Linked DNA regions of Homo sapiens: all the other regions are linked to region 3. The links come from fine-mapping of genetic effects on gene expression. A gene starts in region 3. Each other region holds a variant in brackets. All regions are shown on one strand. Distances are from middle to middle. Region 1 has its middle 8.8 kb from the start of SLC17A2. Region 2 has its middle 14 kb from the start of H1-2. Region 3 holds the start of TRIM38 (tripartite motif containing 38). Region 4 has its middle 27 kb from the start of SLC17A3.

What was found.
Region 1: its variant is fine-mapped to the expression of TRIM38 in lung (TOPMed, PIP 0.98).
Region 2: its variant is fine-mapped to the expression of TRIM38 in whole blood (TOPMed, PIP above 0.99). The same link has a PIP of 0.9 or more in T cells and blood mononuclear cells.
Region 4: its variant is fine-mapped to the expression of TRIM38 in lung (TOPMed, PIP above 0.99).

The regions. Positions count from the first base shown.
Region 1 is chr6:25,936,302-25,942,635 of GRCh38, forward strand. No RefSeq gene overlaps it. Among named protein-coding and RNA genes, the nearest start is that of SLC17A2, 8.8 kb to the left of the region's middle. The variant C/T (reference allele first, on the strand shown) is at 2,760.
Region 2 is chr6:26,067,501-26,073,834 of GRCh38, forward strand. No RefSeq gene overlaps it. Among named protein-coding and RNA genes, the nearest start is that of H1-2, 14 kb to the left of the region's middle. The variant G/A (reference allele first, on the strand shown) is at 2,975.
Region 3 is chr6:25,960,069-25,966,402 of GRCh38, forward strand. TRIM38 (tripartite motif containing 38) reads left to right here and starts at 2,734. Exons shown (of 8, transcript NM_006355.5): 1 at 2,734-2,787; 2 at 2,981-3,214; 3 at 6,267-6,334.
Region 4 is chr6:25,897,577-25,903,910 of GRCh38, forward strand. No RefSeq gene overlaps it. Among named protein-coding and RNA genes, the nearest start is that of SLC17A3, 27 kb to the left of the region's middle. RefSeq lists an enhancer at 540-1,129. The variant A/G (reference allele first, on the strand shown) is at 3,089.

The DNA of each region.
Region 1 (6,334 bases), 24 kb before region 3:
AAAAGGAAATAAATTTTAGAGGAAAAAACAGATGTGAAAAAGAATACATGAAATAGTACATGAAGGAATACATGCACGTGGCATACACTTGAATCCATGTATATGCCAGGTTTTCTTGTGTTGCACACAAGACCAACTCTGAAGTTAAAGATAACCCAGTAGAAAAAATTAAATGATGGGGAGTAATTAAAATGTTTTCAGCAGGAGTAGGACATGATTTTTATATTTAGACTGTTTAGTCGGCTAGTTATGTCTGACGGATAGAAGTGAGGACACTCCTAATTGAAAAGTAAGTGCTACTAAGAAACTCAACGTGGGGGTCATAGAATGAAGCCAGACTTTTGTTCCCAAGCAGGAGACAGATGCAGATAAGAGGGAATGAAGATGAAGTAAGGGCTGAACCACAGAAGCTTCGCATCATAAGTCATTGTATTTCTCTGAGTGAACATCATAGAACTTATTTACTATCTGGTCACAAAATGCCACTGACATGAAAAGAAATCGGGTTGAAATGGCTCTAGACCAAGATTCCCAAGACATCAAGAAATCACCAAAAGTTGCCTCAGGTTCACAAAAAAAGATATTCCAAGGGAGTTCTCCAAGTAAGTAAACACTCATTATTTCTATAAGGCTTAGGCCACAAGACCTTGGCTGAGACCCCTGTCTCTGTGATCTGGTCTGTACCACATTGGAAGGGCCATGACTGATTTCTACCTAGACATTTAAGGCTGAACGGAGGCTGAAGAACCTCTTGCTTGCTTTCCCATAGACTCACATCTGATAACAGCCCTCATCTTAGGCCCCAGAGGGCAAGAAGAGGTTAAGAAGGATCAACCAAAGGTAAAGTACACCAAGAAAAGAGCAGCTCTTTGGTTAGAATTTTAAGATAAAGAGAGACACATAAAAGCTACTGTTGAAAAATAACAGAAGGAACAACGTTTTATCTAATCAATAGATGGAACAAGACAATAGAGGACCATCTCAACAATAACCTAGAATACCATGGAAGACAGACATAAATCATCTGTATTTGTCCTGCTCAAGACTTGCCATATGCCAGGTATGGTGGCTTATACCTATAATCCCAGAACTTTTAGGCTAAGGCAGGAGAATTGCTTGAGCGCAGGAGTTCCAGACCAGCTTGTCTCTACAAAGTTCTCTGGGGGTTTTTTTTCGTTTGTTTGTTTTTTAGGCAGGTGTGATGGCACACACTTGTGGTCCCAGCTACTCAGGATGCTGAGGTGGGAGAACAGATTGATTCTGGGAGGTCAAGGCTGCAGTGAGCTATGATTGCTCCACTGCACTCCACCCTGGGTGACAGGAACTGCAGACAGCCTCTAGAAGTTGAATCAGCCTCTACCAAGAAGCTTCTACCGGTGCAAAGAACTGAATTTTTCAACAAACCTGAGGGAGCTTGGAAGTGGAAATTTCCACAATCAAGCCTCTGATGAGAATTCAGACTCAGCCAACACCTGGATTGCAGCCACATGAGGCTTGAAGCAGGGAACCCAGTTAAGCCATGTCAGAACTTCTATCCACAGACCTTAGGTAATAATAAATGTGTGTTGCTTTAAGCCACTAAGTTTTTGCTAATTTGTTTTGTAACAATTATATATAACTAGTACACATGAATAGTAGAATCTAATATCAGCCATTGACTTCAATGAAGGAAAAAACAGATGTGAAAAAGAATACATGAAATAGTACATGAAAGAATACCTGCACATGGCATACACTTGAATCCATGTATATGCCAGGCTTTCTTGTGTTGCACACCCAGACCAACCCTGTAGTTAAAGATAACACAGTAGAAAAACTGAAGAGTTACTGAGAGTAATTAAAATGTCTTAAGCAGGAGTGGGGCATGATTTTTATTTTTAGACCGTTTAGTCTGCTAGTTATATCTGATGGTTAGAAGTGAGCCTATCTCTGGTCCCATGTTCTTAGAGAGAGTACTTTTATCTCTTTATCCATCTAACATCTCTAATTTATGTAACATCCCAAGTCCTCATTAATCCTGTGTTATTGCTGTTGGAAGTCCATCTATCCCCTCAAGAACAGAGCCTGAAATTCCTCTTTGAAAAATTTCCATTCATCATAATCTCAAATTTCTCCAATGTCATTTTCCACCTAAATTTCATGTGTGACTTGAATCTCAAGACTATTCATCTGCCCCAGGTATCTGTTTGATGCCTGGATATGTCTGAATTATTATTATTGTTATTATTATTATTTTTTTTTTAAATGGAGTCTTGCTCTGTCACCCAGGCTGGAGTGCAGTGGTGCGATCTCAGCTCACTACAACCTCTGCCTCCTGAGTTCAAGTGATTGTCCTCCCTCAGCCTCCCCAGTAGCTGGGATTACAGGTGCCTGGCACCTCGCCCAGCTAATTTTTTTGTATTCTTAGTAGAGATGGGTTTTCACCATGTTGGCCAGGCTGGTTTTGAACTCCTGACCTCAAGTGATCCACCCACCTCAGTCTCCCAAAGTGCTGGGATTACAGGTATGAGCCGCCACACCCAACCTTAGACCTCATCCTACCCAGCTCACGTGTCTTTTAATCCTTTAGCTGAGGTTGTAGTTTTAACTTATTGCTGCTTGAACCTATTTCAATGCAAAAGTTCTAAAAGAACTCAGCCACCAAAATTCCCTTGATTTGCTGCACTGTACCAAATATTAGTCTTAATGAAATACAAGATTTGTTTCAGGATCTCAAGCCCAATATTTTCAACTGTAGGCTTCCCAGTATCCAAGGTTTA[C/T]GCAGGAGATTGGCAGTGGGTACATTCCCAGGGTCAGTGGTTTTTATCCAGGAAGGAACCTCAGAATCACCTGGGGAATTTTAGCAACATACACACCAGTGTTCTCAGGAGTGAGGCTCAGGTATGTGGATGGCAACAATACTTCCCTTATCAAAAAGCTGCCACCACACCAGACAAATGAAAACTGCTCTTTAATTATACAGCTTGGCCTTACCTAATGGTTCTCAATTTTGGATGGACATTCAAATCACAAGGGTAGTTGGTTTTTTTTGTTTTGTTTTGTTGAGACAGACTCTCACTCTGTCGCCCAGGTTGGAGTGCAGTGGCGCCATCTCGGCTCACTGCAACCTCCACCTCATGAACGTAGTTTTAAACAGCACTAGTGCCTAAACCAGACTCCAGAGATCATGATCCCTAATCCTATCCCTACCCTGCGGTACTCATTCTGAGATATGCCCTGGGTAATAAGAATTTTAGAAGGTACTCAGGTGATTCTAATGTTCAACCAGTCTGAGAACCATTCGCAGACTTCATATAGATACTTTATTCCAAACAGCTGAGCTGGACCATAGCTAGAAGAAGGAATAGAGATGAATGAGAGTTCATATTTTCCATAGAAAGCCGCTGCCCTCTTCTAAATGTGAATGGAAGTTCTGGAGACCCCTATCCTAAGGTAGACAGATGACAGATACACTGGAGAATGCTGAAGGAAGCAGATAGGAGTCTAGGCTTTAGACCACACCTTCCAAGACGTACTACTCATGCCTGATGAAGTATTACCAAACATACCCCTGGGCCAATAAACAAAGCAGGAGCAAATGTGTTTGTGTGTGTATAACTTTCTACACAAAATACAGAAAAAAGTGATTCAATGTTCAGCATAAATAAAATTTTGTGTTTTAGTATTGTTTTATTTCAAAGTACATCTTGGTGAGAATGCATTATTTTGAACTGGATAAAAGCCCCCCACTACTGAATCCCAGGTCTCTCTATGAAGCCTGAATAGAGGCACTGTAACTCTAATGGCCAAAGGGCTGGCCTGGAAATTCTCCCTTCAGCTGCAAAAAGAGAAAAAGAATAATCCAAGCAAACAAACAAAACAAAGAAATGAGCAAACCACTACAACACAAAACCCTTGGGATGAGATGAGTACTAGACTGGGAAAGTGATAGCTCTGGTATTCATGTGTGTGTGTGTGTGTGTGTGTGTGTGTGTGAGAGAGAGAGAGAGAGAGAGAGCACATGAGAGCACACACAAGACCCTATAGAGGAACCAAGTAGCTTATCTTCTTCCTTGGATTCCTCTATCTCATAGCCTAGAAGACATGGGGTGATCCTAGCCCCTGGTAGTGTAGGACAAGGTAGAGTGGGACTGTGGTTTTAAAATACTTTTTAGACCGGGTGTGGTGGCTCATCAACACTTTCGGAGGCGGAGGTGGGTGGATCACCTGAGGTCAGGAGTTTGAGACAAGCTTGACCAACATGCTGAAACCCCGTCTCTACTAAAAATATAAAAATTAGCTGGGCATGGTGGCAGGCACCTGTAATCTCAGCTACTCAGGAGTCTGAGGCAAGAGAATCGCTTAAACACAGGAGGCAGAGTTTGCAGTGAGCCAACATCATGCCATTGCACTCCAGCCTGGGTGACAAGGGTGAAACTCTGACTCAAAGTTAATTAGTTAATTAAAATAAAATACTTTTTTATTTGGGGCTGGGTGCAGTGGCTCATGCCTATAATTCTAGCACTTTGGGAGGCCAAAGTGGGAGGATCACTTGGGGGCAGGAGTTTGAGACTAGCCTGGGTGACATAGCAACATGCCATCTCTACAAAAATTTAAAAAATAAAAATTAGCTGAGTGCAGTGGTGCACACCTGAAGTACCAGCTACTCATGAGCCTGAGGTAGGGGGAATTACTGGAGCCCAGGAAGTTGAGGCTGCAGTGAGCAATGATTGGGCCACTGAGCTACAGCCTGGTGACAGAATAAGATGCTGTCTCTAAAAACAAAAAACAAACAAAAAAAACCCAAAAACCTTCTTATTTTAAAATGATTTCAAACATATAGAAAAATCAGAAAAACAGTACAAAGAACACTCATATACTTTTTACCTAGATTGTTAATATTATACATTTGCTTTTTCTCTACCTATCCATTTATTTATATGTCTTTATATCTCTTTATATATATATATACTTACTGAAACATTTGAAAGTTGCAGATAATCATCTTCCTATATTACTCAATACTTTATCTTTAAATTCAAATTCAAATTTTACCAGCTGTCCCAATCATGTCTCTGACAACACTTTTTCCCCTCAATCCAGGATCACAAATTGCATTTGGTTGCTATCTCTTTAGTCTCTATTAACCTGGAACAGTTTCCTGGCCTTTCTTTATCTTTCATGATATGAAATGACAATGAATTTTTAAAGGTTAGGTGTTTTGTAGATTAGTTCAGTTTTAAAACTTCACAACAAAGTGCCAAAGATGTCTTGGCAGCAGTGCTCAAAACAGGTTGGAGATGCATAGGAGCCACAGAGAAGGGTCTGGTTCAAAGGCCAGTGGTCGTCTCATTACAGCACTGCTCCATCAGGTCTAGGTCTGGAGACTTGGTAGCACGTCTATGGCCCCAAAGTGTGTAGAGAATGTTGAGAATTGCCTAGGGTGGCAGACTTAGAGGAAGAAAGGTTGGTATGAGGCCTGTCTAAAATTGAATTTGGCTATAGAGTTATGGAAGGGTTTTAGGCCATGTCTGGGTGGAATCAGATTCAGTCAGCAAGTAAGGGGTCTTTGGGAGGTGAGCTTAGGCTGTCTGGGCCCCTTCGAGGAGGGCAGATTTTATGGGGAAGGGCTCTCCTAGAAGAACCTAGTTTAGGATGAGCAAATCACGCAGGTTCATTCTCCACTTTACCCTAGCACTTCCTAGGCTCAGTGGTGGTTTTGAACTTTTCCCATCCCTGCAATTACTCCATAAAGGGAATGTGCAAGGAAGAGGGGAGGAAAGAGATGTGAGTTCTGCCAGAGGCTTCACTGTTTCATTCCCAGATTTATTTGAAACCAACCCTCCTCCTGTACTTCATGCTCTCCAAGCTCATGGTCCTGGAACTTCACATTTACATAATACGGAATTTTTTTTATTACCCTTGATCTTTATGCATGCAATCTTTCTGAACACCCTGGACCCCCTCCTTCTCTTGGTGACCTTTTCCTTCTCCAAAACATGGTTCACCAGTTATTACCTCTGCAGCAGTGGTCCTTCCAGGAGTTGCTTGCTGCTTTGTTCTTCTCTCAGCCTCAACACTTTTTCTTATCTTGTTACAGCATTTAGAATGTAATGTTTTGTTTTGTTTTTAAAACACATCTTGGCTTTCTGGAAACTTATATAGAAAATAATTTTTTTTCCCTCAATAGATATATGGCTAGGGTCCAGCCTAATGTCTGCCATAGAGAAGCCTAATGTCCAGCCTAATGTCAATAAATGTTTATTGTGGGCATAAAGGAATACATTTTAAAATAATGGAGTGTTTAGGTAAAATTAGGATTATTAGCTTGAGTCATTTAAAATCATCCACAAGA
Region 2 (6,334 bases), 110 kb after region 3:
CTAATAAACAGAGTAGGGAAACCCAGCAAGGCCTGTCTGTCTAGATTCTTCTTCGCCTCTCTGTGCAGCATTCCTTCCTTCTGGATCCTCTCTGGAATGCGGTCTGGTGATCTATGATCAAATAAGGTAGTTCAGATAATTTCTTTATGGCCAGTTTTTACACAGAAAAACAGAGGGAAAGTTAGAGTAATATTTTTAGGTTTTATGGCTGGGCTCTGGGGAAAAGGTGTTTTGATTTCTATGACCTAACTTGAGGAAGAGGAATTCTCATTTCTATGGCTAGACTCCGGGGAGAATGGGACTCAGAGACAGGAGGGCAGGAGAAGATCAGAGAAAAACTTTGGCTTCTGCGGTCTTTATTTTGGGGTATTGTTTTCTGAGTTCCAACAAACCCCAAGGACCTACAAAGACTGCATACTTTTTTTTTCCTTTTTATTAATTGTGAGATAACCACAGCATAGGCAATTTGTTTTTTGTTTTTGTTTTTGAGACAGGATTTTGCATTGTTGCCCAGGCTGGAGTGCAGTGGCATAATCATAGCTCACTGCGTCCCCAAACTTCTAGGCTCAAGAGATCCTCCCAGCTTAGCCACAACTGAGAGGTGCTACTAGCATTTAGTGAGTAGAGAACAGATATGACTAGAGGTTCATTAAGTGTTTTGAGCCTTTACAGCTTCAAAATTGTCTTTGCTAACCCCTAACTTTTGGATGCTACAGAGGGCCCCTGGAGTATCCAAAGGAGAGGTAAACAGGATCATTTGACACGTTTAGTTATATAGGATTGTTGAAATAAGGTGATATTTGATCTTCAGGTCATATTTCAGTGAAAACTGTGAATGTGTGTTCCAAAATTATAGGGGATTTCTAGAGTTCTGATATCTGAGTTTGTGTCATCAGTTATAATTAGAGTTATTGTGTTAGGCTATTGTAAATCACAGAGGTGACTAAATTTCTTTGTCAATTGTGTTTTTGACTGTGACTACCCTAGGACATTTTAACATTCATAGACAAATGTTGTCTTGTTTTGAAACTCTGCAAAGAATGGATTATAACCCTCAATTGCAGGTTTCTGATAACTTTGAAGATTGTGAACAGGAGTTAACTAGGTGAGCTGAACTATTGGAAAACTAATCTTCTTGACTCTTGCCTCTGTACCTAATTCTTCCTGGATGCAGGACAAGAACTCAGGCAAAGGTGCTGCAGCATAAAGTCTGGCCAGAGAAACTGACACTCCAGAGGTTTTGTAACAATATTTTATGTTAAATAATTTATACGTATTTCCTATTCTAAGCATTTCAAGTGATTGTAAAAACTCAACTCATGAAAACTTATAGCTGAGATGATGTATCCTGTGATTTTTAACTCAACTTTATACCAATCTAAGTTGATTAGCATTCTTACAAAGTTTAAGAAGTTAAGATTTGCCATATTAAGTATTGTCTTAAGATTTTTAAGAATTGAAAAATTTGGAGCAGTTTTGTTCATTAGTCAATTGGATACTTTAAAAGTCCAGTATGTCAGATTTAAAAATTGCAATTTATAAGTTTTCTTCTTAAAGTTCGTCAAATTGCAAAAGCCTTGCCAAAAATGAATGTTAAAAATTTGGTAGATTATTTGTTCTATGGGTTCTATGGGAAAAAATTGGTAGATTAATAAATGCCAATAGTAAGCATTGTAAATTGAATTTAAAAGTTTAAGGAAGAGCTATTAATTTAATTTTGTCATAATAATGAATTGAATGTTGTTTTTTAAGTACCATAGTACTTGCTGAATGATCTTTCTGTATGGAAAAGGACATAAAAATGCACATTGGTAACATCAACTCTATTTCAGCGGCGGGATTGTGGGGTGAGCTTATCTCCAGGTTTGGGAAGGATGTGTTGTATCATCTGCCTCTTGTGTGTGTACTACCTGCCATTGCTGCTTGGCCACCAGCATCCATCTTGGTGAGTCCTGTCTCCCTCTAAAAGACTCGAGCTGTGCTGTTCAATCCAGTAGCCCCTAGCTACATGTAGCTATTGTAATGAATTAAAATTAAGTAAAATTAAACATTCTGCTCCTCAGACACCAGTCACATTTCAAGTGCACAATAGTCACAAGTGGCCAGTAGCTAGTTTTGAACAGTGTGGAAAGATTTCTGTCATCACAGAGCATTCTATTATCACGTTGTAAAGCATTCTCTAGCTCTTGCAAACTTGTCAGATCCCTTAAAAGTTCTTAAAAATAATTCATCATTCGAATTTTGCTCAGACTAATTTTTAGGGAAGTCTTTTTCTGGAGGCGTGGACTTGTGATCTCCATAATTCATCCCTTCTACTATGTTAGTTACCTTGAGCTGCTGTAATAAAATACTATAGACTTAGTCGCTAAAAAAAAAATAACTTTCTCACAGTTCTGGAAGCTCAGAAGTCCAAGATCCAGGTGCTGGCCAATTCAGTTTCTAGGTGAACGCTCTCTTCCTGACTTGTTGGTGGCAGCAGCATTCTCACTATGTGCTCATGTGGTGTCCTTTTTGTGCTTGTAGGGCTTAGGCAGTGGAGAGAAGGAGGAGAGAAAAAGAGGTCTCACTGTTTTCTCCTTTTCCCGAGACAGGTTCTCGTGTAGCCCAGGCTGGACAGCAATGGCTCACTGCAGCCTCCTCCTGGGCTCAAGCAATCCTCCCACCTCAGCCTCCAGAGTAGCTGGAGCCTCAGATGTGTACCACCACACCCAGTTCATTTTTTAAATTTTTAGAAGTTGGGGGTCTCACTATTTTGTCCAAGCTGGTCTTGAACTCCTGGGCTAAAGCGAGCCTCCTGCTTCAGCCTCTCATAGTGTTGGAATTACAGGCATCAGCTGCAGCACCTGGCTCTATTGTCTTTTTTTTTTTTTTTTTTGAGATGGAGTCTCTATCACCCAGGCTAGAGTACAGTGGTGTGATCTCACTGCAACTTCCACCTCCTGGTTTCAAGGGATTCTCCTGCCTCAGCCTCCCA[G/A]GTAGCTGGGAGTACAAGCGTGCACCACCACACCTGGCCAATTTTTGTATTTTTAGTAGACATGGGGTTTTACCATGTTGGCCAGGCTGGTCTCAAACTCCCAACCTCAGGTGATCCATCCACCTCAGCCTCCCAAAGTGCTGGGATTACAGGCATGAGCCACTGCACCTGGCCTGTTGTCTCTTTTAATAAGGGCATGAATTTCATCATGAGAGACACATCCTGATGAGTTTGTCTAAATATAATGACTTCCCAAACGCCCCAGCTCCAAGTACCATCACACTGGGGGTTAGGGTTTCAACATATGAATTTTGCGACGGGGAGTCAATTCAGTCCATAGTACCTACTGTATTAGTTTTCTGGGGCTGCAGTAACAAAGTACCTCAAACTCGTTGGCTTAACAACAGATATTTATCGTCACACAGTCCTGGAAGCTGGAAGTCTGAAATCAAAGTATCATCAGGTTTGATTCCTTCTGAAGGCAATGAGGGATAATCTGTTCCAGGTTTCTCTCCCAGCTTCTGGTATCCCCAGACTCATTGCTTGACTTGAATGGTGATTCTCCCTGTGTCTACTCACCACATTTTCTCTCTATAGGTGTCAGTCTCTGTGTATGACATTTCTCCTTTTTATAAGGACACCCTTTATGTTGGGTTAGAGCCCACTCTTATCTTAACTGATGAAGTGCAAAGACCCTATTTCCAAATAAGGCCACATTCACAGGTCCTGATACAGGAGGGGGAAAGTGCTGGGAAGGGAAGGGCATGGTCCCTTTAAATGATATGGAAGTGGGGAAGGGAAGGGCGTGGTCCCCGGCTAGGGCTCCACCCCCAGGCCTGTGCCCAGGGACCACGGTGAGGACAGGCATTTTTGTTTTCCTGCCCAAATGTTGCATTTCCCAAGACCTCCCCTGGCCTGCCACAAGACACGAATAGCTGGACGTCCAGGGGAGCACACTGGCAGAAGAGCACACAACAAACGTTTGCCTGGCAAAATGAGGCGGAATTTGACTGGGGTGGTTGGAGGAGAGCCTGGGCCACTGAGTGGCTGACTCCAAGGGAAAACTTTCCCACTCCATCCACTTTTGGCTTTGCCCAACTGCTGAGAGCTACCTCCACTTAATAAAACCTTGCACTCTTTCTCTAAGCCCAGGTGTGGTCTGATTTATTCCGGTACACCAAGGCAAGAACCTGGGATACAGAAAGCCTTCTTCTGTCCTTGGGACAAGGTAGACGGTCTAATTGAGTTGGTTAACACCAGCTGCCTATAAATGGCAAAACTAAAAGAGCACCCTGTAACACACACCCACTGTGGCTTCAGGAGCTGTAAACATTCAACCCTAGACACTGTGGTGGGGTCATGGGGTTGGAGACCCACAACCTGCCCGTCTTAATGTTCCCCTAGAGGTTTGAGCAGCCAGGCACTGAAGAAATTAGCCACACTCCTATCACATGCCATGCGAGCGGGACAAGGGAACTTTTCCCATTTCAGTACTGGTGGTTAGGACTTCAACAACTTTATTTTTGTGGGAATGCATACTTCAACCCATATTATGAGGGTTCCTAGAATGTGGACTGCTGAGGCTGAAGCACTACCTAAGTGCCTGAGGCCAGCCTGCAGTTGGTTTCTGGCTCTCATGAGTTAGCTAACATCTCGGGAGAGAGGAAGACAGGCCTAGGAAGAGCAGAGCCCACGATTCATTCTTCATTCCACCTCTGCTCTTCAGAATCTCCTTCAGTCTATGTGATGAGCCATCAGACCTCTTGGTGGGAAATGGTGCTGCCGTGCCTAGCCCTTTTCGATTGTGCTACCATGCTGAGATTACTGAGGGACCAGGAAGGCCTGGACTCAGACCATATAGGGTGCCACCCTAGTGGGAATGGAACCTGTCAGTGCTGGGTGAATGTGACCGTCCCATGAGGAGAAGACAGATACTCTTGCCAAGCTGAGCATGGAGACCTGATGGGACACTCATTATCATGAGGGGATGAAGATCCAGGCTTCCAAAGTTGGTACCACAGGGTGGCTATGGCATGAACAGGGGGTTAGGATGAAGGACCCAGAATCTAACATGCTGGAGAGGTAGGGAAAGGAGTCAGAAATTCAGTCTTGTTGAACCCTAAATATTGCATCTCTCTCTCTCTTTATTTTTTTTTTCTGGAGATGGGGGTCTGGCTCTATCATCCAGGCTGGGGTGTAGTGGCATGATCTCTGCTCACTGCAGTCTCCGCCTTCTGGGTTCAAGAGATCCTCCCACCTCAGCTTCCTGAGTAGCTGGGACTACAGGTGCGCGCCACCACTCCCAGCTCATTTTTGTACGTTTTTGTAGAGACACGGTCTCACCATGTTGTCCAGACTGGTCTCGATCTCCTGAGCTTAAGCGATCTGTCGCCTCGGCCTCCCAAGAAGGATTGGGATTACAGGGCCTGAGCCACTGTGACCAGCCAACATTGCATCTAATTTTAGGGTATTCATCTGACTTTCCTGAACACTGCTTCTTGGGTGCTCATTTTAGCAGGCATTTGGCCATAGGTAGATTTAAAGTTTTGGTGGGTTTTGTTGTTGTTGTTGAGACAAAGTGTCACTCTGTTGCCCAGGCTGGAGTGCAGTGGCAAGATCTCAGCTAACTTCAACCTCCATCACTGTGCTTCAAGTGAGTCTCCTGCCTCAGGCTCCCGAGTAGCTGGGATGACAGGTGTGTGCCACCATGCCCTGCTAATTTTTTATATTTTTAGTAGAGATGGGGTTTCGCCATGTTGGCCAGGCTGGTCTGGAACTTCTGACCTCAGATGATCTGCCCGCCTCAGCCTCCCAAAGTGCTGGGATTACAGGTGTGAGCCACAACCCCTGGCCAACGTTTTCTGAAAAAGCTATTCTAATCAGGTAGGAAAGATGGGAAGCGGGGTGGCGGGGTGTACTTTTTTCTGCATATTCAGTTGCAGGGTCCCAGACCAGGGAACAATCTTCAATCTCTTACCTTCAATCTCCCTTCATGGAAGTCAGTGCTCAGCCTGGCCATTTACTGTGTGCAGTAGGTGTGATGTAGAAAGCCTCTAAACCTCCATGCCTACCTGCCAGGAACAATATACACAAAGGTGTGTGTGTGTGTGTGTGTGTGTGTGTATCTTACGGATTCTTCCACGTAACTATGTGGACATCTAATCCATTGCTTCCAACTCTATATTGTGCAGTGACTTCATTTTACCTCCACCTCTCTCAGTGAAGGATATCAGTCAGCCCACACTTTCCTGTCACCTTTATGGGATATGTTTGAGATGATATTTGGAAAATATTCCCAGGGAGTGGGCACTCCCATCAGCAGTGTATGAGGATTCCTGAGTCTCCATATCCACACCAATA
Region 3 (6,334 bases):
CCACAGTGGGAACACACAGTACAGAGCTTCTGAAGGAGACTCTAGTGACCTACTTCCCATTGTGAGTCTTTGGACTCCTATATCCCATAATCACAGGATCAAGCCTAACTTTACATATTAGAGATAATGCATTCCTCCTTGGGGATAGTTCAGGTTGATTTCTCCCTAGGCCTGCCTTTGTCAACATATTCCTGAAGTCTCATCTGCACCCCATCTCTGCTTCTAATATTGGCCACTCTGTGCATGAACCAGCCCCTCCTTCCTGCAATGGGAAACAGGTGTGAGATGGGACAGCTGTCACAATCCGTTTTGCTTTTGTCTTGCTGTTATTATTGGTAATGGTAGTTTGTTTCCTTTTTAGCATTCACTAGCTTCCTTTTCCTGATCCTTTGATAGTGTTACCAGAAAGGGGGTCCCAACCCAGACCCTAAGAGAAGGTTCTTAGATCTCGTGTGAGAAAGAATTTGGGGCAAGTCTACACAGTAAAGTGAAAGCAAGAAAGTAAAGGAATAAAAGAACGGCTACTCTACAGGCAGAGCATCAGCTTCTGGACTAAGGATACTGATATGGTTTGGCTGTGTCCCCACCTAACTCTCATCTTAAATTCCCACATATTGTGGGAGGGACCTGGTGGGAGGTAATTGAATCATGGGGGCAGGTCTTTCCCTGAGTAATTTATACTGCTGTTCTCATGATAGTCAATAAGTTTCATGAGACCTGATGGTTTTATAGAAAGGAATTTCCCTGCACAAGCTCTTTGCCTGCTGCCATCCATGTAAGACCTGACTTGCTCCTCCTTGCCTTCTGCTGTGGTTGTGAGGTCTCCCCAGACACGTGGGACTGTAAGAGCATGAAACATTTTTTCCTGGTATAAATTACTCAGTCTCAGGTATGTCTGGATCAGCAGTGTGAAAATGGACTAATACAGATACTTACAGTTATTTCTTGATTATGTACTAAACAAGGAGTGGATTATTCATATGTTTTCTGGGAAAGATGTGGGCAATTCCCAGAACCAAGCGTTCCTCCCCTTTTTAGACTATATAGGGTAGCTTCCTGACATCGCCATGGTATTTATAAACCACTATGGAGCTGGTGGGAATGCCTTCTAACTTGCTAACACATTATAATTCGTGTATAATGAGCAATGAGAATGACTAGAGGCCACTCTTGTTGCCATCTTGATTTTGGTGGGTTTTGGTCAGCTTCTTTACTGCAACCTGTTTTATCAGCAAGATCTTTATGACCTGTGTCTTGTGCCAACTGCCTATTTCATCCTGTGACTTACAATGCCTAACTTCCTGGGAATGCAGCCCAGTAGGTCTCAGCCTTATTTTACCTAGCCCCCATTCAAAATGGAGTCATTCTGGTTTGAACACCTCTGACAATAGGACAGATCTGGAATGAGCCATGCCTGGGTACAGAGTCACATCCACAACAATGAAAGTTGTAGATATCTGCAAGGACTCATCGTGGGACCAAGGATTCAGGGGCTCATTCTTTCTCCTCTCTCTGTGTGCTGGTTGCCTCAGGAGTAGAATGTCCCATGCTATGCATGGGGTCTGCAACCATCATGCCAGGGCATGATGAATCGTAGGTGGCAAAACAACAGAAGGCTCTGTGAGCACCCAGGAGGGTGCAGTGCTGAAGAGTCTTCTGCTTGGTATAGGAAGAAAGGAACGTGTTTCCCAATCTTGCCTTTATTTTGAGTAGTTGGACCAGAGGGATTGCAGCTGGGCCAAACTCCATGTTCCATTGGCTATCAGGGTCAGCAGGCAGGCCAGGGGCCCAGACAGGCCAGTGGCTCCCAGAATTCAAGTTTAATTTCTCCTCCCACCTGTGTCCTGAGCTCCCCTTACTGGTTCCCTTGGACCACTGCATCTACTTAAGCCAGCATTTATTATGTTGTTATCATAAATGCCTCTTACACCTGAGACTTATAAATGTGACAAGCTCTTATTGTGAGATAGTAATCCATCTTTTTTCCCCATGAAATAATAATTCTAACGGGTGGTGATAGTACTTTTCCTTTCATTTTGAAGTGGAGAAGCTGGAGCTAAGTCATTAAGGACTTGACCCTGGACCCCACAGCCTTTTCTCCACAAAGCACAAAGCAGAGTGATGGTCCCAGGGATCCCACACAGCTCTAAGCTGGGGGCACTCACTGCTGGGCCACTAGTGACTCCCATTTTCTATCCTGGCTGACCCTCGCTATTGAAGAAGATCTGAGTCCTGCAGAAGGACAGCAAGGAGAAAAACAAGACACAGAACGGGACAGAGAAGAATAGAAAGCTGACTCAGATGAATTTTGTGATGCCAATGAGTCCTACTGCTGTTACCACCCCTTTTTCCACCACACCCTTCAGAGCAGTTATAGAACCACAAGCAACCCATAAATAGCAAAAGAAGTAACATCAGCTAGGAAGGCTTAAGGACTCCCAAGGGAGTTGGTGGCAAAAGTAGAAAGATCTCAAATCAGAGTCTGTGAACTGAACCTCTGCAGGCTTCCTGTTTTTAGATACTCTGTGTTGGGGTCACATGATAGTTTACAGGGTTATTAATTGGTTCCTTCTTTTTATTGCTGTAAAAGAAGGATATTTTCTTCCTACGTTTCCCCCTCCTTTACCGGAGAGGCGGAGTGCAAATGATATGAACAACGTCACTAGTTTTCTCCTAAATCTTATGAGCCCCGCCTCCCACAGTAGTTTCACTTCTCAGTTTAATCCGGTCTGAGTTAACTTCCTGACCCAGGAAGTGGCAGCAACAGAGGGGACTAGCAGCGAATATGTAAGTGTCTGAGCAGTGAAGGTTACGGAAAAGGTCCAGGCTAAGGTTTTCTCAGTGGATATGTGAGTGTGTACTGATGGCAAGTGGGGTGGGGAATATATTTCGTGACAGCAGGGCCCCTCCAACTCTGAAAATGGTCAGGACTTTCTTTGTTTTACAGCTCTCACCTCTTTCCTGCTCTTTCTTTCACCAGACTTTACACCAAATCTCAGAAGATTCAGAACTTAGATGAGTGGGGCCCAGGACAGGAACCCTGGAGCCTTGGAAGGAGGGGAGCCCCATCTCCCCAGAAGAGCAGTGACCCCAGCAGAGAGGGGCCTGGTGTATCACTGGAGGAAATAGCCTGCCAAGGAATACACGTCTTCAGAAGAAATTCTGTGTGGCTTCAAGAGACTGATCAAATTGTGAGAGGAAAACAGCCTACCCGGTAATTGTAGTTAAATTACTGTTTTTTATTCTAGGCACTCTTCAAACTTCCTCCTGACTCTGCCCCTGTCCTAGAGGAGCTCCCAGGAGTAGGGGTGTGGGGGCGGGCGGGGGGGAGGGATCGGGGGTACAGGGAGAGCCCAGCTAGGTTCTCAGAAGAGGCAGGCTTTTTCGCTCCTGGTCACTCCTCTGTTGCCTATCCCTGGCCTCCCCCATCTTCTTTCTGCCTTCCCTACCTCCTTGGGTCTGCAAACTCTTTATGTTGCAATCACTCTGAACATGTCTCTTGAGATAGGTCCTGTCCTGGAGAAGAGATAGTAAAAGTAAACTCCCCAGTTCTGCAGGAGCTCTGATCCCATAGAAATAACTGCTCCTCAGGAGCAAACCCTCTGCTCTGCAGCCTTCTTTCCAATTCTTATTCCCTCAGTTTAGGGAGAGGGCACAAAAAGGATAAACCGGTTCTTCTGGTTGTTCTGGTTGCCTTGATTGCTTCCATTATCCTCCTGGTTGGGTCTCTAGCAAGACGTTATTAGCCAGGGAAGTCCCACTTAGGCACCCCTCTCTGCAGAAGAGGTATTCACTATTCTCCTTTCTCTTTCTTTTGCCTATTATACCTCTGCTCCTGAAAGCAAAAACAACAACAACAAAAACACAAACAAAAAACAACCGACCTTATTAACCAGTGTTGGTTGTTGTTCTTTGTGGGGGATGGGGGGGGTCGAGGTGGAGTCAAATTTTATTGTCATGATGGTGTAGGAGCCAAGGGAACACTTCCCCTTTGCCTTCTGAAGTTCACTGAAAAATCGACTCACAAAAGGCAGGCTAATTGGAGAAAAGGCATACAAATTTATTAACAAGTACATGGGCTAGAATCACAGAGTGATTACCCCCTCTGCCAATGGGGGTAGATACTTATATAGCCTTATTTATAAATACTTATGTATAAATACATAAATATAAATATGTATGCATATGTATGTATGTATAAATATGTATGTATACTGTATAAATATGTATGTATAACGTTTATACATGTATACATATTTATTTCAGAGGGGAAGGGTGATATCAGGAGAATATAGGTAATTCTTTGAGGGGCAGTAAATGATTACTAGGGAGAATAAATGAATATTTGGGAGGATGAATGAATGGAGGAACAGAGTTTAACTTGTAAATGGTTCTCTTTGGAAAATGAATGAGCCTGAGAGACAGACATTATTTTGTGAAAGTGTCTGATTAGGTCTGGTTACATTCTTAGTCCTCTTTTCTTCAGTACAAAATGAGATAATAGGGGTTGGAAGGAAAAACAATTGTTCTTCTTGTCTAGTGTGACTGGTCTTTATGTAGATAGGGGAAAAGTCTCTTCCAGCATCTGCTGATCTCTAAGGGCCTTTAATTCAAAATACTCATTATACCAGGGAGTCATATATTGGGGTGAAGCTCCCCATACTCCTTCAATGGAATCTGTCACAGATCACCCAATTGCATAAGTGTTACTACTAATTACAAAGAGTAATTCTGGTACCAATTATTCTTTTTTTTTTTTTTAAGACAGATTCTCGCTCTTTCACCCAGGCTGGAGTGCAGTGGTGTAATCTGGGCTCACTGCAACCTCCCCCTCCGGAGCTCAAGTCATTCTCCTTCCTCAGCCTCCTGAGCAGCTGGGATTACAGGTGTGCACCACCACATCTAGCTAACTTTTTGTATTTTTAGTAGAGATGAGGTTTTGCCATGTTGGTCAGGCTGGTCTCAAACTCCTGACCTCAGGTGATCTGCCCGCCTCGGCTTCCCAAAGTGCTAGGATTACAGGCGTGAGCCACCGTGCTGGCCTGGTAACAATTATTCTTGAAGTTAACTAGAATAGGAAAGAGTTTCACACTCCCTGAGTTCTCTCTTTTACAGCTTTTGTGAGGAAGCCTGCATTGCTTCTCCCAGCACTTGGTCCAAGGTAACTTTCTGTGATAACAGAATGTTGTATATTGAGGCTGTTATGTAGCCACTAGTCACATGCAACTATTAAGCAATCAAAATGTGGCAACTGGAACAGAAAAACTGAATTTTTTCATTTTAATTTTTATTAAGTTAAATTTAAATTCCTACTCATGATAGTGGCTACTGTATTAGCTATACAGCTAGATGTTTGTGTATCCTCTAAATTCCAATGCATTTCTTCTTTCTGGAGAGAAGACTTTAGCTGGACATGGTGGCACATACCTGTAGTCCCAGCCACTCTGCCAGGGTGAGGCAGGAGGATTGCTTAAACCCAGGAGGTCGAGGCTGCAGTGAGCTGTGGTCATGCCACTGCCCTCCACTACAGCCTGGGCAAGAGAGCGAGAACTTGTCTTATAAGAAAAGAAAAAGAGGCTGGGCACGGTGGCTCATGCCTGTAATCCTGGCACTTTGGGAGGCTGAGGCGGGTGGATCACAAGGTCAAGAGATCGAGCCAACCAACATGGTGAAACCCCATCTCTACTAAAAATACAAAAATTAGCTGGGCGTAGTGGTGCACACCTGTAGACCCAGCTACTACTCGGGAGGCTGAGGCAGGAGAATCGCTTGAACCCGGGAGGCGGAGGTGCAGTGAGCCGAGATAGCGTCACTGCACTCCAGCCTGGGTGACAGAGTGAGACTCCGTCTCATTAAAAAAAAAAAAAAAAGTTAGAAGACTGAGAAAAGAAAAATAATGAAATAATTTAGAGCAGTCTGAGCTATGTGAGGTATGCAAAATTTATCAGGACAAGTGAGGCAGGAGTATAGGTCTTCAGTTAAGACCCCATGTTTAAAAGCATTTTGTTCCTGACTGGCTGCCTCATCTATTACCTACATATTCCCGAGATTTGTAATACAAAGAACAATGTATAGCCAGTCAAAAGCTTATGCTATTTTAATGTAAATTCTTGGCAAACAACTTTAAAACTGCTTTAAAACTGCTTTTTTTCCTCTAAACAACCACTTGTAACTGCTTGCTAATGAGGGCAACTTGAAACTCTGCACTTGGGTTGCAGTTCTCAAACGTGGCCCAAACAACCTCAGCCTCAACTTCTTCCTTTTAGGTCCTCTTTTCTTCAATACAAAATGAGATAATAGGGGTTGGAAGGAAAACCTTCAAGACCTATGGAAG
Region 4 (6,334 bases), 62 kb before region 3:
TTGTATTTTTAGTAGAGACAGGGTTTCGCCGTGTTGGCCAGGCTGGTCTCGAACTCCTGACCTCAAGTGATCTACCCGCCTCGGCCTCCCAAAGTGCTGGGATTACAGGTGTGAGCCACTGCGCCCAGCCGGGGTTCATCCTTAATACATACATTAGAGATATAGATTCTGTTTTTATCTAAAAAGTCTTTATAAGGCCGGGCGCGGGGTCACGCCTGTAATCCCAGCACTTTGGGAGGCCGAGGCGGGCGGATCACGAGGTCAGGAGATCGAGACCATCCCGGCTAAAACGGTGAAACCCCGTCTCTACTAAAAATACAAAAAATTAGCCGGGCGTAGGTGGCGGGCGCCTGTAGTCCCAGCTACTTGGGAGGCTGAGGCAGGAGAATGGCGTGACCCGGGAGCGGAGCTGCAGTGAGCCGAGATCCCGCCACTGCACTCCAGCCTGGGCGACAGAGCAAGACTCCGTCTCAAAAAAAAAAAAAAAAAAAAAAAAAAAAAGTCTTTATAAAAATCTGATTGAATGGTTGAATGCTGTGCTAAAATCTGCATAATATCTTACAACACTTCTGTGAATCACGAGACAGTTTTGAATGCTAAATGTCAGTTAACAGATCTAAAGGGACCAACATCTGCTTTCCCAAATTATATGAAAGAAGATCCTGATCCCTCATCAGGTGAAACTCACATCAGACAACAGTGTCTGCATTTCTCCAAAACCCGCCTCAGCCCCATGGCCACTTTCCAGGGTTATCCTGCCTACCAAGCACTCTCTTTCCTCAGAAAAACTTGGGGGAAAATGTAGAATAATAATTTTTTGAAGTTCTGACCAACTTCTTGAATCACTCAGCATGTTTTTGACTGCAGGTACAGAAAACGCTGACTCAACAAATTTAAACACTATATAAATTTCTTATCTCCCCAAACAGGACATCAAAGGCAGAAAGGTTCCAGAGCAGGGTGATCAGAGCTCTGGCTCCACTGCCCTCAGTCTTCTTGCCTCTGCTCTCCTTCACAGCAGGCTTTACCCCCCATGCTGGTCACAGTTTCAAGTGTCCATGCAGACACAAGTTAAAGGCAGGAAGAAACAGTGCGTTTCTCTTGGAGATCAAGGAATGCCTTTCCAGAAAACTCCCCCTTATGTCTCATTTGCCAAAACTTGGCCTAGTCTCAGGTGCTGCCTGAGCTAATCAGCTACAGAAGAAGGGACCACATGACTGGTGTGGACCAGTCAGAATTCACCACATGAAGCTAGTAATGTGGCTCACACTTCCCAGGGGGATATGGCCAGGTAGCAGACAGTGGATCGCTGAACAGAATACTGATAGATTTCAGCACCAAGGTTAGAATGGCTACCACACCTAATCCCACCCTATCCCCGTTTCCTTCTTTAATTTTTTCCATAGCACTTATCAGTAGCTGACAAACTGTATATGTTTTTACTTTTTTATTGTCTGTAGCTCCCAAGTAGAATACAAACATCTGAAACTCACTGTATCCATCCTGAGTAATGTTCTTTTCAGCTCAGTCACAATCATTTTTTGATAGCCTATCCTATAAGCTTAACTTATAGTGTTAATCAGTATTAATACATCTTAGTGGGAAAGAAGGAAAAAATAAACGATCACACACACACACACACACACACACACACATACATTTACGTAACAGAGCAAGTGTGAAAATACCTAAAGGCTTTATAGCTCCTTTTGTCAATGGATACATGACAGCATTTTTGGCATTCTTTACTACTCTTATTCTATGCTCCATTTGTCTTCAGTCAGCACCTCAGCTGCCCTTATGTTTTACTTGGTAAGGCAAATTCCTAAATGAGCCTGGTAATTAGTCATCCAGCTTATAGGAAGGTACTATAGTTTTTCATTAACTTTTTCACTGGGCTTGAGAGTAGTAAGGACTCCCAGAGAATTCCTTGTGTTCCAAAAGTACTTCTCCTTGACATCTTGGTATAGGATTAATAACTGTTTACCTTTGATAATCAGGAAGAATGACTCCAGCTAGTACAGTTACGTGATGCCTATACATTCCTTTTTTTCTGGGAAAAATGTAATGTGAAATTAAGTGCAAAAACCATGCCTTGTTTATGTATGTATCAAACACTTCTAGAGCTTTCCCAATACAGTTCTCTTCTCAGCAAACAAGAGGACTATACCCTCATCCCCACCCCTGCACTTAGGTGTAGCCAATGTGTTGTAACTTAAAGAGGAGAGGGCACTGGATGAAGGGAAATCTGTCTAACAAGCTTCTTTATTTCACCTAGTGGAAAAAAGCCTTAATCTGCAGTGGGGCAGTTTTCAAGGACATAGACTGAATTGGCTCATGCATTTATGGAAGATGAGGAGTCCCATGATCTGTAATCTGCAAGCTGGAGACCCAGGAAAGCTGGTGGTATGATTCAGTCTGAATCTGAAGGCCTGAGAACCAGAGGAACTGATGATGTAAATCCCAGTTCAAGAGCAGGAGACCAGATGAGATGTCCCAGCTCAAGCAGTGAGGCAGAAAAAAAGGCCCAAATTCCCCCTTCCTCTGCCTTTTCTTCTATTCAGACCCTGAATATCAGGTGGCATAATGCCATCCACACTGGGAAAGACAGTTTACTTTACTAGGATCACCTATTCAAAGGCTAATCTCATCCAGAAACACGCTCACAAACACAGCCAGAAATAATGTTTAACCAGATAGCTGGTTATCCCCTGACTCAGTCAAGTTGACACAAAAAATGAACTATTTCAAAGCTTACTGTAATCAACAGTTTTGTCAAAAAGATAGACACAAATCAGTGGAATGAGATAAACAGTCTAGAAATAAACCAACAAAAATATTGCCAACTAAGGCAAAGGTAATCAATGGAAAAAAGATAGTCTTAGCAACAAATAGTACTGGAACACCACAATGTGTTAATAAAGTGAAACTGGAGACATCTCTCACACCTTATACAAAAGTAACTAAAAATAAATCAAAGGACTAGATGTAATGTATCAAACATTACATCTTTTAGAATGTATCAAACATTACAAGCTTTTAGAATAAAATATAGAAGAAAATTTACATGATCTAAGATTTGGCCCCA[A/G]TGAAGTTTTAGCTATAATAACAAAAGTATTAGTCATGGAAGAAAACAAAATTGATAAGTTCAGGTGGGCTAAATTAAGGGAAAAAAATCACTTTGCAGTAGAGAAACCTGAAACATTACCTAAACCACATGATGAAGGTTAATATCAGTGATGTCATGTGGATATCATGTTCTCCCTAAAATGATGTGACAAGAAGGGCCCTTTGCCCTTGTGGTATTATTTCAAAAAATCTATAACTCCGGTGTAATTATGAAAAAAAAGCAAATGATCTTCAGGACTGTTAAGGTCATGAAAAGCAAGAAAAGACTGAGACATTGTCACAGACAAAAAAAGACTAGGGAGATATGACAAGAAAATGCAGTGTGGTATTCCAGATTGGACCTTGGAACAGAAAGAAAACATTAGTGGAAACAGTGGTGAAATCCACATAAAGTCTAGGGTTTGGTTAATAGAGTTTCATGTATCAATGTGAGTTGCTTATATTTGACAAATGTATCATAATAATGTAAAATCCTAACAATGGGGGAAAGCTAGGTGAAAGATATATGGGAACTCTCCTGTACTGTCTTTGTACTATCTTTGCAACTTTCCTGAAAATCCAAATTATTCTAAAACAGAAAAGTTCATGCTATTAGAAGTGAGGATAGAGGTTACCTTGAAGAAGCTGAGGTCTAGAAGAGACCATGAAGGGTCTAATTAGCTAACACACGTTGAGTATCCCTTATGCTTAGAACCAGAAGTATTTCAGATTTTTTCAGATTTGGAATGTTTGCATTATACTGAGTATCTCAAATCCAAAAATCCAAAATCTGAAATATTCCATGAGCACTCCTTTGAGAATCATGTTAGCATTCAAAAAGTTGCCGATTTTGGAGCATTTTGAATTTCCAATTTTTAGATTAGGAATACTCAACCTGAGTAGAGGCTGCCTGCTAATTACCTGGGAGCTAATTACATGGATATGTCATTTTGAGAAAGTTTAGCTTGCTGATATGGATGATTTTCTGGATAAAAATTATACTTTGATAACAATTCTTTTAAAGGAGACAATAGTTATTAACTTTTAAGTACTTTTTAGCTCTACAATTCAGAATTCTTTAGTGCTAAATATTACATATTTTGAAACAAAAGTTTTGTTTATATTTATTTATTTGTTTCCCCCCCCCTTTTTTTTTTTTTGAGACAAGTTCTCACCTTATTGCCCATGCTATAGTGCAGTGGGTGATTATAGCTCACTGCAGCCTCAAACTCCTGGACTCAAAGGATCCTCCTGCCTCAACCTCCCAAGTAGCTAGGAGTACAAGCATGCACCACCATATCCAGCTAATTTTTGTTTATTTCTACAGAGGCAGGGTCTCACTATGTTGCCCAGGCTGATCTCAAATTCCTGGCCTCAAGTATCCTCCCACCTCTGCTTCCCAAAGCGCTGGGATTACAGGTGTAAGTCATTGCACCCAGCCAAAAGTTTTATTTTAAACTTATTATTATGAGCATGTAACAGATTTATGTGGTTTGAAATTCAAACCTACAAAAGAAAATAATAAAAAGCTAACAGATAGACAAACAAAAACAAAAGCAAAACCCCACTTGGCCATGCTCTCTAGTTCCTCATTTCTCTCTTGGAAGAAACCAGAGCAATGTTCCCTGTGTATCCTTCCAGAGATAATTTTTTAAAATACTTTTTTCTTTTTAACAGAAGAGATGGTAGACTACTTCTTTTAAATTAAATTAATATACATTTACTTGTTTCTTTTTATTGCTATAGAAAATGAAGTTGGGGAAACAGGAAAAATGACCTAGTATTATCATACTAACATACCAAAATTTTTCAGTTATATGTATTTCCTGTTTCAGTTTTTACCCCACCTGTTTTTTATTTGGTTTGAAATCATAGTACAGATAAAAACTTGAGGCAGGTATTTTAGACTTGTTTTTCTTTTGTAACATAAAACTTTGAGAGCACCAGGAAATCTGGAAATATTCATTTAGTTATTCATAATTCAAAATATTGTTATATCCACTTTGTGTCAGACTATTTGTTAAGAACTAAACTAAAAGAAAAAGATGGGGCTGGACATGGTGGCTCACACCTGTAATCCCAGCACTTTGGGAGGCTGAGGCGGGTGGATCACCTGAGTTTGGGAGTTCGAGGAAAGCCTTGCCAACACGGTGAAACCCTGTCTCTACTAAAAATACAAAAATTAGCCAGGTGTGGTGACACACGTCTGTAATCCCAGCTACTCAGGAGGCTGAGGCAGGAGAATCACTTGAACCCAGGAGGTGGAGGTTGCTGTGAGCCGAGATCATGCCACTGCACTCCAGCCTGGGCAGCAAAGCAAGATTCCATCTCAAAAAAAAAGATGATAACACCCTCTGGGAGATTACATTCAGATAGAACAAATAAAGGTGTAGAACCTAAGATGTGACAAGGACACTGTTGGGTGACTGATTCTTCCTGGGAACATTTATAAAGGCTTCCTAGGGGAGGGCGTGTTTGTGTAAGAGCTTTCCAGGTCAGAAAGTATGTACAGTGGAAAATGTATATGAAAAGACCGTGTTTGGGAATCAGGGATTATATATTGTGATTAGAGGAAAGAGTCCTAGGGTTTGATACCTACAAAGAATTAGAGTTTCTAGGTGCTTCTGGACATGTGGATTGATGACAGCAATACTAAAAATACAAAAATTAGTGGGGCATAGTGGTGAGCGCCTGTAGTCCCAGCTACTTGGGAGGCTGAGGCAGGAGAATAGCTTGAACCCGGGAGGCGGAGGTTGCAGTGAGCCGAGATTGTGCCACTGCACTCCAGCCTGGGTGACAGAACGAGACTCCGTCTCAAAAAAAAAAAAAGAAAAAAAGCAGGAGTTAGCAGAAAACCAACAAGACATGGGAAGGAGAGAGAGAGCTGCAACACCCAAGAGAAAAAATAGCAATGCTGAAATCAAAGTATAATGAAGGAGAGAGGATGCTGGAAGCTATGAAATTCTTTCTGTGAGGCAATGGGGCAATGACCCTAGAACTGCTGAGTTAGCAGCAGTGACAGACTCAGTGCCAAATCATATATTAGAAAAAAAAATCAGATAGAGGTAAAGTCCAGATCCAAAGAAGAGGGTTTTTAGCAGTAAAGCAGACAGTAGAACCCACCCAGCTTTCTAGGGTGCAGGGGGCCTCCCTTTCAGGCATCATGAACAGTGGGGGACCATAACTAGGCATGATGGCTTCAGATACAGGGCTTGTTCATCTCTTG